2 separate regions of the Homo sapiens genome follow, and region 2 is linked to region 1. The links come from fine-mapping of genetic effects on gene expression. A gene starts in region 1. The other region holds a variant in brackets. All regions are shown on one strand. Distances are from middle to middle.

Evidence for each region.
Region 2: its variant is fine-mapped to the expression of KCNA6 in whole blood (INTERVAL, PIP 0.97).

What each region holds. Positions count from the first base shown.
Region 1 is chr12:4,806,107-4,811,477 of GRCh38, forward strand. It overlaps KCNA6 (potassium voltage-gated channel subfamily A member 6), which reads left to right and starts at 3,228. Exons shown (of 1, transcript NM_002235.5): 1 at 3,228-5,371. The coding sequence starts at 3,936. KCNA6-AS1 (KCNA6 antisense RNA 1) reads right to left here. Exons shown (of 3, transcript NR_199077.1): 3 at 1-762.
Region 2 is chr12:4,829,179-4,834,549 of GRCh38, forward strand. It overlaps KCNA6-AS1 (KCNA6 antisense RNA 1), which reads right to left and starts at 1,593. Exons shown (of 3, transcript NR_199077.1): 1 at 1,252-1,593. It also overlaps a transcript of KCNA6 not described here. RefSeq lists enhancers at 232-421, 482-641, 1,071-1,572. The variant C/G (reference allele first, on the strand shown) is at 2,109.

The DNA of each region.
Region 1 (5,371 bases):
GTTAAAATTTTCTGTCTATAATGTAATTTATTACATGAAAATGTATGCTTATCAAAGCAGATATTTTGTATAGATCACTGCTAAATCCTCAGCACCTGGCACCATGCTGGCACTCAGTAGCTGCTCAATATATACTTTTTAAATAAATGAATGATTGCTATGACCATGGCAAACATCTGAATCTGGATACAACAACAAAAAATAACAACAAAATCTGTGCTGGCATGAAATTGGTGCTTGGTGAATGCTGGGGAAAAATCCCCTGCCATTGGAAGCCACTTGGCAGTGTTTATGGATGGAGCTGTGTCTTCCTTCACCTGGGAACTGGCATTTCTGAAGGTGTGATTGTACTCATCCTTAACATACGCTTGGGGGGAATGATCTAGGCATAGGGTTTTTCTTAAGCTAAGAAATGAGTCTATTTCACAAAAGAACTAAAAACAGAACTCTGATTCATGAATTTGCCAATGGCTTGTCCTTCTCAGGGGAACCTCCCTGGGCACAGTGAAACCCTTCTTGGGGCACGACCTCATGCTTGATGTGAAGGTCATCACAGAACATCAGCTCTGCCTGAAGGGTGGCCGGCAGCCCAGTCAGGCTTAACCCGAGGGGTACTCAAACGGAGGTTCTTGACACCTTATCAGGGTGTGTACGCTTCTGCAGAACGAAGGTTCCTTCCCATGCTTTGCCAGGATTGGTTTTGAAGAATTACTGACCTAGTTGACAGTCTCGTGAATAAAAATGGCAATGATGAAAACAAACCTGCAAATGAATCATTCATTATGAATTTGAAAACAAAAACAAAAAGAATCAGGGGTTAGTCAATTTATGACTCAGAAAATAATGACAGATAACTGGATAAGGGTAAAGTGACAGATAACTGGATGGGGGTAAAGAGTATCTTCTATAGTGTATTTGCTGTTGGTTTCCTTTTTTTTCTTTTCTTTCAAAAAGATTTTTTAAACAGAGCAACTTTTGTGTGGAGTCTAAATGGCTTAATTACATAGTCTGTAAGTGAGAAAACTCCGCTGGATGACTCCATGTACTTGCTTTCTCTCCCTTCACGGAAACATGCAAGGTGAGAGAAAGGAGTGGAAATGAGACAGGCAAGCATGAGATGGGCAAGCTGGCTGCTTTCCTGTTGTGATGTGGTTTGGAGAAAAAAGAACAAAAGCCCTTTACTCAAGCTGTAACTCCCAGCCAGTCAGCATCAAAGGCCCAAGAAGCTATTAACCACAAATTAATTAACCCCTTGCTTTAGAGAACTAAGGACCTTTCTGAGGCCCTACGTGCCTAGCTAGGCTTAACTTTCACCTCATCATGAACTTTTCCTTATTTTAGTACTAAAAATCATGCCCACAGGTGGAGATTTAAGATGCTAATGAGACATATGTTGTATGAAGCAGCATCTTAAGCCACCGTACATGTGCCCGAAAAACCTCACCTCTACATGCCCTGACTTCCCCTTACTGCAGACCTCCACAAAGGGAACCCACACCTTGACTTTGGAGAGCAACCCACTTCCTTTCTTGGTGTTTGGTCCCTTATGTCCATAAGCTTTCATAAAATCTTTCTCTTTGCTACTGTATGCTGTGATCTCTTTTGATTTCTATCCTGGGGGATCAAAAAAGCCCACAGGGCGTTGGTGCCAGAAATCAGCTGTGCAAGCACAGAAAGGGAGCAGAGGCTGTTGCCTGGCTCAACTGGTGAGGAGCAAGACTGGAGAATGAGCATGCAGTGAGTTCTAATACTAGCACATTTCTTACCCACTCAACACCTGATCCCTTCCCGACACATCCAGGAGCCTTGGTTCTCTCCTTCCTCCAACTCTCTGAGAGTGAATGCTGCTGAGAACCACTGTGGTTTTAAAATACTCCGTGCAATACAAAGAACTCTCAGATGCATCCTGTGGTTTGAGAGCACCTTTATGTGTCATTCTCATCATTAACCTCAATGAATGCATACTAATGATCTAATATGCACCAGAAGCTACACAAAAACACTTTGTAGTTGTTAGCCAATTCATTTTGGCTACAGCCAGCCAGAAAAGAGGAAACTGAGGCACAGAGAAGCAAATGTCAACCCTACCTGGAAGTGTCAGTCTGAAAAGATCAGTTGAGTCTTCCTCTACCAGACCCCAACTTGTCTGGTCTCGTGAAGAAAGACAGAAATGGATGGAAAACCATTCTTATCACCTTCTTGCTGGAGAGTTAGGGAAGAGTCAGCTGGTCCCTAACAACAAACTTTGCCCTACTCCAGTACTGCCAAAGGGGTCTTTGTTGTAACATGGCCTACAAGGAGAGGACATCTTTCTGGGAAAGCACCTAGAATGTGGCTGGCACATATTCAATGCCCAGTAAATGTAGCTATTATTTTTTCAATCAACACTCTTACATACCCCTTTTCCACTCACCCTCTTCTCCCTTTTTTTGGTCACCCAATAAGCAGAAATTCCAGATGCATCCTTCGGGGTGGTTGGGAGCAAAGGATCCCCAGGGTGCACTGTGCCCTGGGCTGAGGTATCTCTGAGGTGCTTCCATCTTCTGGGTCCTTCCTCACTGGGGTTGTTGCCTCAGGCTCTCAGGACTCCCCTGGAAATCTTCTGATGGGAAAGGCATTGATTGACTTGCCACCCTTTCTCTACCATCCCTTTGCAATTCTGGGAGAGTTGCAGCCCCGCCCTCCCAGGCTTGCAAAGGTAGACGGAGAATTATATTGGAATTTAAATCGGAAGCTCTCAAGGCATCTCAAAAATACTTTCTCTATTTTTTTTTTCCTGTAGATATTGGAGAGGTTGGCAAACGGGTCTTCCTGAAGACAGAAGAATGTATGATTTAATGTTTTCTTTAGATTTCTGTATGAGTGGATGCACAGTGCTCCGTATTGTGTGGTGGGGCGGGGTGTGTCTTCTTATTGATGAAATACACTGCGCAGGTCAACTCGGTAAATTGAAATGAGAAGAGCCGACTGCGGGGGTGGAGGGGGTGTGGTATTAGGGTGCCGGCGCTTGTGGAGGGGGGCGCGAATGTGAACGTGTGAAAGCGAGAGGCGTGCCAGGAGAGCGCGGGAAAGCTTACTGGTGAGGCAAGTGTGCGTCTATTTCCATGGCGCCCTGGCTCGCGGCAGCCCCTGGCTGGGCGAGGGGTGTGATGTGGGAGTGGGGTGGGAGGGGGCAGCAGGCGGGGCCTGCCACGTCACTTGGAGAGTGTGTGTTGGGAAGGAAGGGCAGAGCGGAGAGCCGAGCCGCTGCAGCTGCGGCGGCGGCAGCGAAGCCTTGAGCCGTGGGGAGGTGGGTCCCCGCGCTCGGGCGCCGGGGCAGCCCCGGGCCCTCTGCGAGGCCTGCGGCGCGGCTCCTAGGGAGGAGGTGGCGGCTGTGGCGGCCGGAACCGCGACCTTGGCCGGACCCAGCCCCGCGGTGGACGCAGGGCGGAGGCCGAGCCCCGCCAGGAGTCTTTGCCGAGCCGGAGGGAGGCGCATCTGGCGCTTCGGTACCAGCGGCAGCCGGGGGTCCGGAGCGGCTGGAGGAGCGCAGTGGGAACTGGGAAGAGCTAGCCCGGCTGGAGGGCGGACCTCTGCGTCCGGGAGCCGGGTCTCAGGCACCGCTGGGGGCGAAGCCACGCGTCTTTTCGGGCAGCCAATTTCACACGCGCCTGTGTGCGGTTCCGGGCATCCCAGTAAGCTCTAGCACCCGGGCGCGGGTAACGGGAAGCGCAGAACCAAATCCCCAGCGCCCAGGTCACCTCCCCAGACCCAGCCTTGCAGGGACCAGGGCTTTAGGGCTCACGGACCCAACGGCCAGGTCAGACCGCGAACCGGGAGGAGCGCGGGCCCCACCCTAAAGAGGGCGCAGCCGGGAGCTGGGGAGCGGGTGCCGCGCTCCAGAGATTGTGTCGTGGGCGCCGTCCTAGTGGCGGGGAGCGCACCTCCGAGGGGGCATGAGATCGGAGAAATCCCTTACGCTGGCGGCGCCGGGGGAGGTCCGTGGGCCGGAGGGAGAGCAACAGGATGCGGGAGACTTCCCGGAGGCCGGCGGGGGCGGGGGCTGCTGTAGTAGCGAGCGGCTGGTGATCAATATCTCCGGGCTGCGCTTTGAGACACAATTGCGCACCCTGTCGCTGTTTCCGGACACGCTGCTCGGAGACCCTGGCCGGCGAGTCCGCTTCTTCGACCCCCTGAGGAACGAGTACTTCTTCGACCGCAACCGGCCCAGCTTCGACGCCATCCTCTACTACTACCAGTCTGGGGGCCGCCTGCGGAGGCCGGTCAACGTGCCCCTGGACATTTTCCTGGAGGAGATCCGCTTCTACCAGCTGGGGGACGAGGCCCTGGCGGCCTTCCGGGAGGACGAGGGCTGCCTGCCCGAAGGTGGCGAGGACGAGAAGCCGCTGCCCTCCCAGCCCTTCCAGCGCCAGGTGTGGCTGCTCTTTGAGTACCCAGAGAGCTCTGGGCCGGCCAGGGGCATCGCCATCGTCTCCGTGTTGGTCATTCTCATCTCCATAGTCATCTTTTGCCTGGAGACCTTACCCCAGTTCCGTGTAGATGGTCGAGGTGGAAACAATGGTGGTGTGAGTCGAGTCTCCCCAGTTTCCAGGGGGAGTCAGGAGGAAGAGGAGGATGAAGACGATTCCTACACATTTCATCATGGCATCACCCCTGGGGAAATGGGGACCGGGGGCTCCTCCTCACTCAGTACTCTTGGGGGCTCCTTCTTTACAGACCCCTTCTTTCTGGTGGAGACGCTGTGCATTGTCTGGTTCACTTTTGAGCTCCTGGTGCGCTTCTCCGCCTGCCCTAGCAAGCCGGCCTTCTTCCGGAACATCATGAACATCATTGACTTGGTGGCTATCTTCCCCTACTTCATCACCCTGGGCACTGAGCTGGTGCAGCAGCAGGAGCAGCAACCAGCCAGTGGAGGAGGCGGCCAGAATGGGCAGCAGGCCATGTCCCTGGCCATCCTCCGAGTCATCCGCCTGGTCCGGGTGTTCCGCATCTTCAAGCTCTCCCGCCACTCCAAGGGGCTGCAGATCCTGGGCAAGACCTTGCAGGCCTCCATGAGGGAGCTGGGGCTGCTCATCTTCTTCCTCTTCATCGGGGTCATCCTCTTCTCCAGTGCCGTCTACTTCGCAGAGGCTGACGATGACGATTCGCTTTTTCCCAGCATCCCGGATGCCTTCTGGTGGGCAGTGGTTACAATGACCACGGTAGGTTACGGGGACATGTACCCCATGACTGTGGGGGGAAAGATCGTGGGCTCGCTGTGTGCCATCGCTGGGGTCCTCACCATTGCCCTGCCTGTGCCCGTCATCGTCTCCAACTTCAACTACTTCTACCACCGGGAGACGGAGCAGGAGGAGCAAGGCCAGTATACCCA
Region 2 (5,371 bases), 23 kb after region 1:
CACGTTGGCTGGGAAATGTGTCATTTTATAATTGGAGTTTCACCCCGGTGGAGCAGGAATAGGATGGGATTTGGCTGTCTACTGTAACCCCATCCCCCCAAAGCATGTCTGTACTTACCGTCTGAGGAGGGTGCTTCCCCTCCTTGAGCTGATTTGCCTGTGCTGTCCAGAAGCATTGCTGGATATGATTATCCAGTAGAAAAGGAGCTAATCGACAAACTTTTCACTGGCATAACGTGTCCACATTGCTCTTATTGCTCGCTAAATATAGAGGTTGCCAGGACCCCTTGAAATTTTGATTCAGAAGATCTGGGAGAAGCCTGAGAATATGCCTTTTTAAAAAACATGTGCTCTGAGTGATCACCTTCATGGATTTTGGGGAAGTCTTAGGTAGCAGGTCTCAACCTTCATAGGATATCAGCATCACCAGATTCTTTTGAAAAAAGTACCACTTCCTGTCCTTCTGCTCACTGCCTGCCCTAATTTGAATAACTGATCTAGGGTGGTTTCCAAGTTCAGGATTTAAAAAAAAAAAAGTCTCTAGAGGTTCTTGTGTGCAGCCATAGTTGGGTACCTCCAGCCCAAGAAGTTCTGCTGATAATATCGCACCTATACATTTAATTGCACTTCACATTTTACAACTCTCTTTCACCATTGAACATCGTAACAATTCACTAAGGTCAGTAAAGCAGGCATTATTATATTGTCCTTGGCCGAGAGAGGTTGACTGAATTGCCCGAGGCTGCACAGCTTCTCCCTCAGTCAGCAGCAGCTGTTCCCTACTTGGCTCATGGCCAGTCCTGCCAGTTCTTTTGGAAGGGGCAGCCTCCACTCCCCTGAGACTCACAGGATGAAATCAATTGCCTCTCCTAGTGCTGATGCTCGCGAGGCTCTTTCTTCCCCTTCTCAGCCACATCTTTTCTACTGCAGCCACTCTTCCTGCTCAGAGGGCCTCTCTCTGAAAGGTGCAGTTGCGTTCCCCTCCCATGCTCCATCCCACTTAACGGTTAGGTCATGGCACTGAGGGATGGACAGCTTGGAGCCTGGACAGTCCACATCCTCCACCGTGGTCTGAGGACAGAGACGTGCTGCCCCCCAGCTCCAGCCCCTTCGATGCCATCCTGCAGAAAGCACTGTGCACGCTGCATGGCAGGAGCCAGTAAAGTTCCACACCCCCATCCCAAATTCTCACATCCACCACCAAAGCTTCCTTCACCCCTGCATCCCACCGCGGATAACCTGAAAGCCCACCTGAGTCCTTCCTGGGAGGCGGCTGTGTGGGGCTGGAGCCCCCTGCAGTGGTGAGTCCCACTCCGGACACCTGGCCAATGGGAGCTTAACAAGGTGGCCAGCGAAAGAGAAACAGAACCCGGTAACGGCATCTGCCCCTTCCGCCATCCTCCACCCCGCAACCCGCTGCGGGCTCAAAATCTCTCCTCATTCAAACCGAGGACTTTTGTTTCTCTTTACTGTTCCTCTCCTTGTCCAGACCTTTTCCTTCACACAGGCTGTATCTTGGAGAGGCTCCCAGTGACTGTAGACTTCCTGTGTCAGAATCCTGCAGCCTCTGTCCCTGGGCTGCTTGGGCGGAGTGGGAGGCTGCGGGAGAAGGCGGGGTTTGCCTTGCAGGCAATGCGGGCAGGGGCGCTGCACCCAGGGAAGAGTTCCAAATGCTGATTCTCCCCATGGCCTTTACCTACCTACCTATTCAGCAGCCTTGCAACTGAGACGAAGCCACCCCCTAGCAGACTTTTGCAGGATATCGTTCACTTTCCTCTCTCAGGCCCTGCCCACCACGGGTTGTTGGTTTTGTGAGTTGGTGTGGGGGAGTCAGCAGGGTCCTCAGTGACTTTTGATCTTTCAGCGCTGACTTTCAGGAAAGGTAAGCTCTCTGCCAACAAAGCTGGTCTCCGCTGTGCCTCCTCCTCTTATACAACAACCCTAAGTGGCTTTCCTGCCAGGTGAGAGGATTTGCAAGGACTGCGGAGGAATATGGGACCGACGAGCTCTCCTTTCTCAAAACAGAGGGAGCCTTGGTGCAGATGCACAAAGTGGTCCTTGAAGTTGCATGTGGCCCGGAGCGGCTGGCTTGGTGGATCTTTACTGTT[C/G]TGGTTGGGCATTGTCAGGCAGCTATCAGAGGGCCCAAGAGTCCTTCACAATAACTCGTTATCACCCACAAGCAGCCAGCCAAGTTAGTACCTGCTTGACCCCGTCCTGCTGACAGTGGATTGGACCAGGGTTGAGCCTGAGAGCCAGCCAGCATGAGCCTCTTTCCTAGAAACCGTTAGTCAGGAAAAAAACGTTCTGGTTCAGTCTGGGCTAGCCTCTCTATGGGAGAGATGGAAAACCTCCCAGCCATGGGAGCTGGAAGGGGTCGGATCCATCCTCCAGCTCCGCTTTCTCCTTTTGTAAATGCCAAAAAGAATTGGGGTCCTGAGTGATGACTTGATTGGCCCAAGGCCACGTGGCTACTATGACTACTTTATAACAGAGCTGGATTTTGGAGTCCAGTGTGTTAATTCACTTACTCCCTTGGCTAAGACACGGAGCTTCTGAAAATAATCTCTTATGAGAGCTTCCATTCAGCTCAGACTTTGAAGAAATGATAGTTCTTGCATACTATATACAGAGAGAGCACAGGTCTCAGTATCAGACTGATCTGGGCTCAAACCCTGGCTCTCCGAGTCACTAGTATTGAGATCTTGGGCACATTTCTCATACACCTTGTGTTCCTCCAGTATAAAATGGGGATCACTCTGGTCTCACAGAAACATGGTGAGGGTGTTCTATTGAGTAGAAGATACGCTTAGCAAATACTCATTGCTAAATAAAACAAGGCTTCCTGGTCAAAATGAGTAATAGCTCTCTCCTTCCTAGTGCTCTGATTCTGAAGATGGTGTAGTTGTGGAATTATTTAGTGCCCTCATGTTTGTGGTTGGGACCAGAGAACAGGGGCCTTTCTTTTGCTTTTCTTCAGACCCCGAGAGCCTGGGTGTCATCAGTCAGCCCACGACCATCCCTTGTGGGCTTGGGAAAACTCAGACAGAGAGGGAAATGTGAGACTCTGGCAATGTGAAAAAAACAAGTACCTCTCTATTACTTATTTTCTAGTCTTGTGAAGTTTGTTCAACCTACAACCCAGCATTGATTCAAGGCCTCCTCTGTGACCCCACCCCAGCGGCAGTGCGCCCACTGGGTAAGATAAAGTGAGAGGTGCAGGGACGCACAGGTAGAAGGAGATCCTTCAGGCCTGGTCACATCTGAGGTTATGGGGCGGTGGCCTGATACTCCTGAGACAATACGCTTTTTGATACTCTTTTGAGGGTGGCTGCAGAGGACATTGGCTTGTACCTCTGGCCCCTCTGTTCATTCTTCACCTCATAGAATGAACATTTGCAGGCCTGCATTGAGACACTGTTTTGTCCTTGTTATGTGCTTCATGCCCTAAATCACCACATCAGAATTCAATTCCTAGTCACTCACCTGTCTCCAGAACAAATCCCTATGGAATATCCATCTTTCTAGACCCAGAGAGGGTCCTGCCTCTCTCAACCCTCCCTCTCTCCTCATGACTCGAAATCCTAAATCTCCTTCAAAGACCACCTAGCTCATATCCAGCTCTTCATGAAGTCTTTATGTGGACTGGACCACTCCTTTTGCACTCAGCAGAGGTTACCTTGTGTTGCTGTACATTTTTAGACTGTAAGAGTCCTTTCTAGAGATACATGTGCCACCAAACCCTCACCTCAGGGGGGTCAACAACCTAGTTGAAAATACGTCTTAAGTGTAGTTGGGCTGCCATTTTCTTGAAGGCAGGGCCCTGTCTCATCGTTTTTATTCCTCAGAGCACAATATCAGGGAACTATAGGCTGCATGTAACAGTGGCATTAAAAAAAGAGAATATTTTTTATCTCATATGAAATGGAGTCTTGAGGAAGGACAGCTTCAGGATTCGTAATGCATCAGTTAGCTATTGTGACATAGCTAACCAATTAAAAACCGAAAAGTTTGAAACACCACCATTACTTTATAGCTCCCAATTCAAGCAGGTCAGCAATTTTGGCTGGGCTCAGCTGGGCAGCTCTTCTGGTCTCACCTGTGCTTCCTCATGCATCTGTGATCCCTCATGCATCTGTGGTCATCTCTAGGTTGATCAGGTGGTGCTGCTGGGGGTTGTGTGGCTGTTGGCCAGGGAGCCTCAGTATCCTGCCCATGTTGCTCCCATGTCTCTAGCAGGGCAGCCTGGAGTATCCCTCTTGAGACGAGATTTGGAGTTGGTGCAGTCACTTCTGCTGCAGTGCTGTTGACTAAGACTCAGTAATGAGGAAATAGACTCTGCCTCTTCGTGGGAGGAGCTTCAAGGTCACATTGCCAAGGGCAGGTGGAGCATTGGAAGCATTTTTTGTAGTGGGTCTGCCATAGCCAATGATGTTAGGGCTTGAAGAAGTCTGTTCTTAGGACTTGCTTGGCTTTTTGCCTCATGCTCACAGATGGCAGCAGCAGTTCCAAGCATCATGTCCTCACACAACAGTGTGTGAAGGCAGGAAGGGTTGAGCCTAAGGATGAGGAAAACTTCCCCAGCTGTCTCCTATGAGCCTTTCCTTAGGCTGTGGTTAGGGCGGGGCTGTCCTAACCAGAATAGACCAACGGCTAGGATTACCATGATTAACTTAGAGTCATCCCTAGGCTGGGAGGGACTTGTCTTCTTCTTCTTCTCCTTCTCCTTCTTCGTCTCCTTCTTTTTTAAATTAAATTTTTTTTTTTTTTTTAGACAGGGTCTTCCTCTGTCACCCAGGCTGGAGTGCAGTGGCGTGATCATGACTCTCTGTAGCCTTGATGTCTCAGGCCCAAGGGCTCCTCTCACCTCGGCCTCCTGAATAGCTGGGACTACAGGCACACCCACCATGTCTGGCTATAAATTTTTATTTTTATTTTTTGTAGAGACAGGGTCTTGCTATGTTTCCCAGGTTGGTCTGAAACTCCTGGGCTCAAGCAGTCCTCCCACTTTGGCCTCCCAAAGTGCTGGGATTACAGGTGTGAGCCACCATGCCCAGCCAGCCTGTCTTCTTTGAAGTGTTGGCTTCCAGAAACCTGAACAAAATTGGGGTTCTGAGAGCACAAAGGCAGTAGTGAGGGGTGACAGCTGGGTTGGGAACCGGTAGGGTGCAGAAGAAGAAACTTACGTCGTGTCTTGTACCCACTTATTTTTTTAAATAGACATTGATATTAAGCCTATAATGTGTGAGGCACTAGAGAATTAAAGGTGAGCAAAACTTTAATCTTCTAAGAAGGTCATGTCTAGATGGCAGATACGAGTAAACAGCTGACTGAAGTACAATGGTGGTAAATGGTAGAAGCGGGGGCTTGGGGA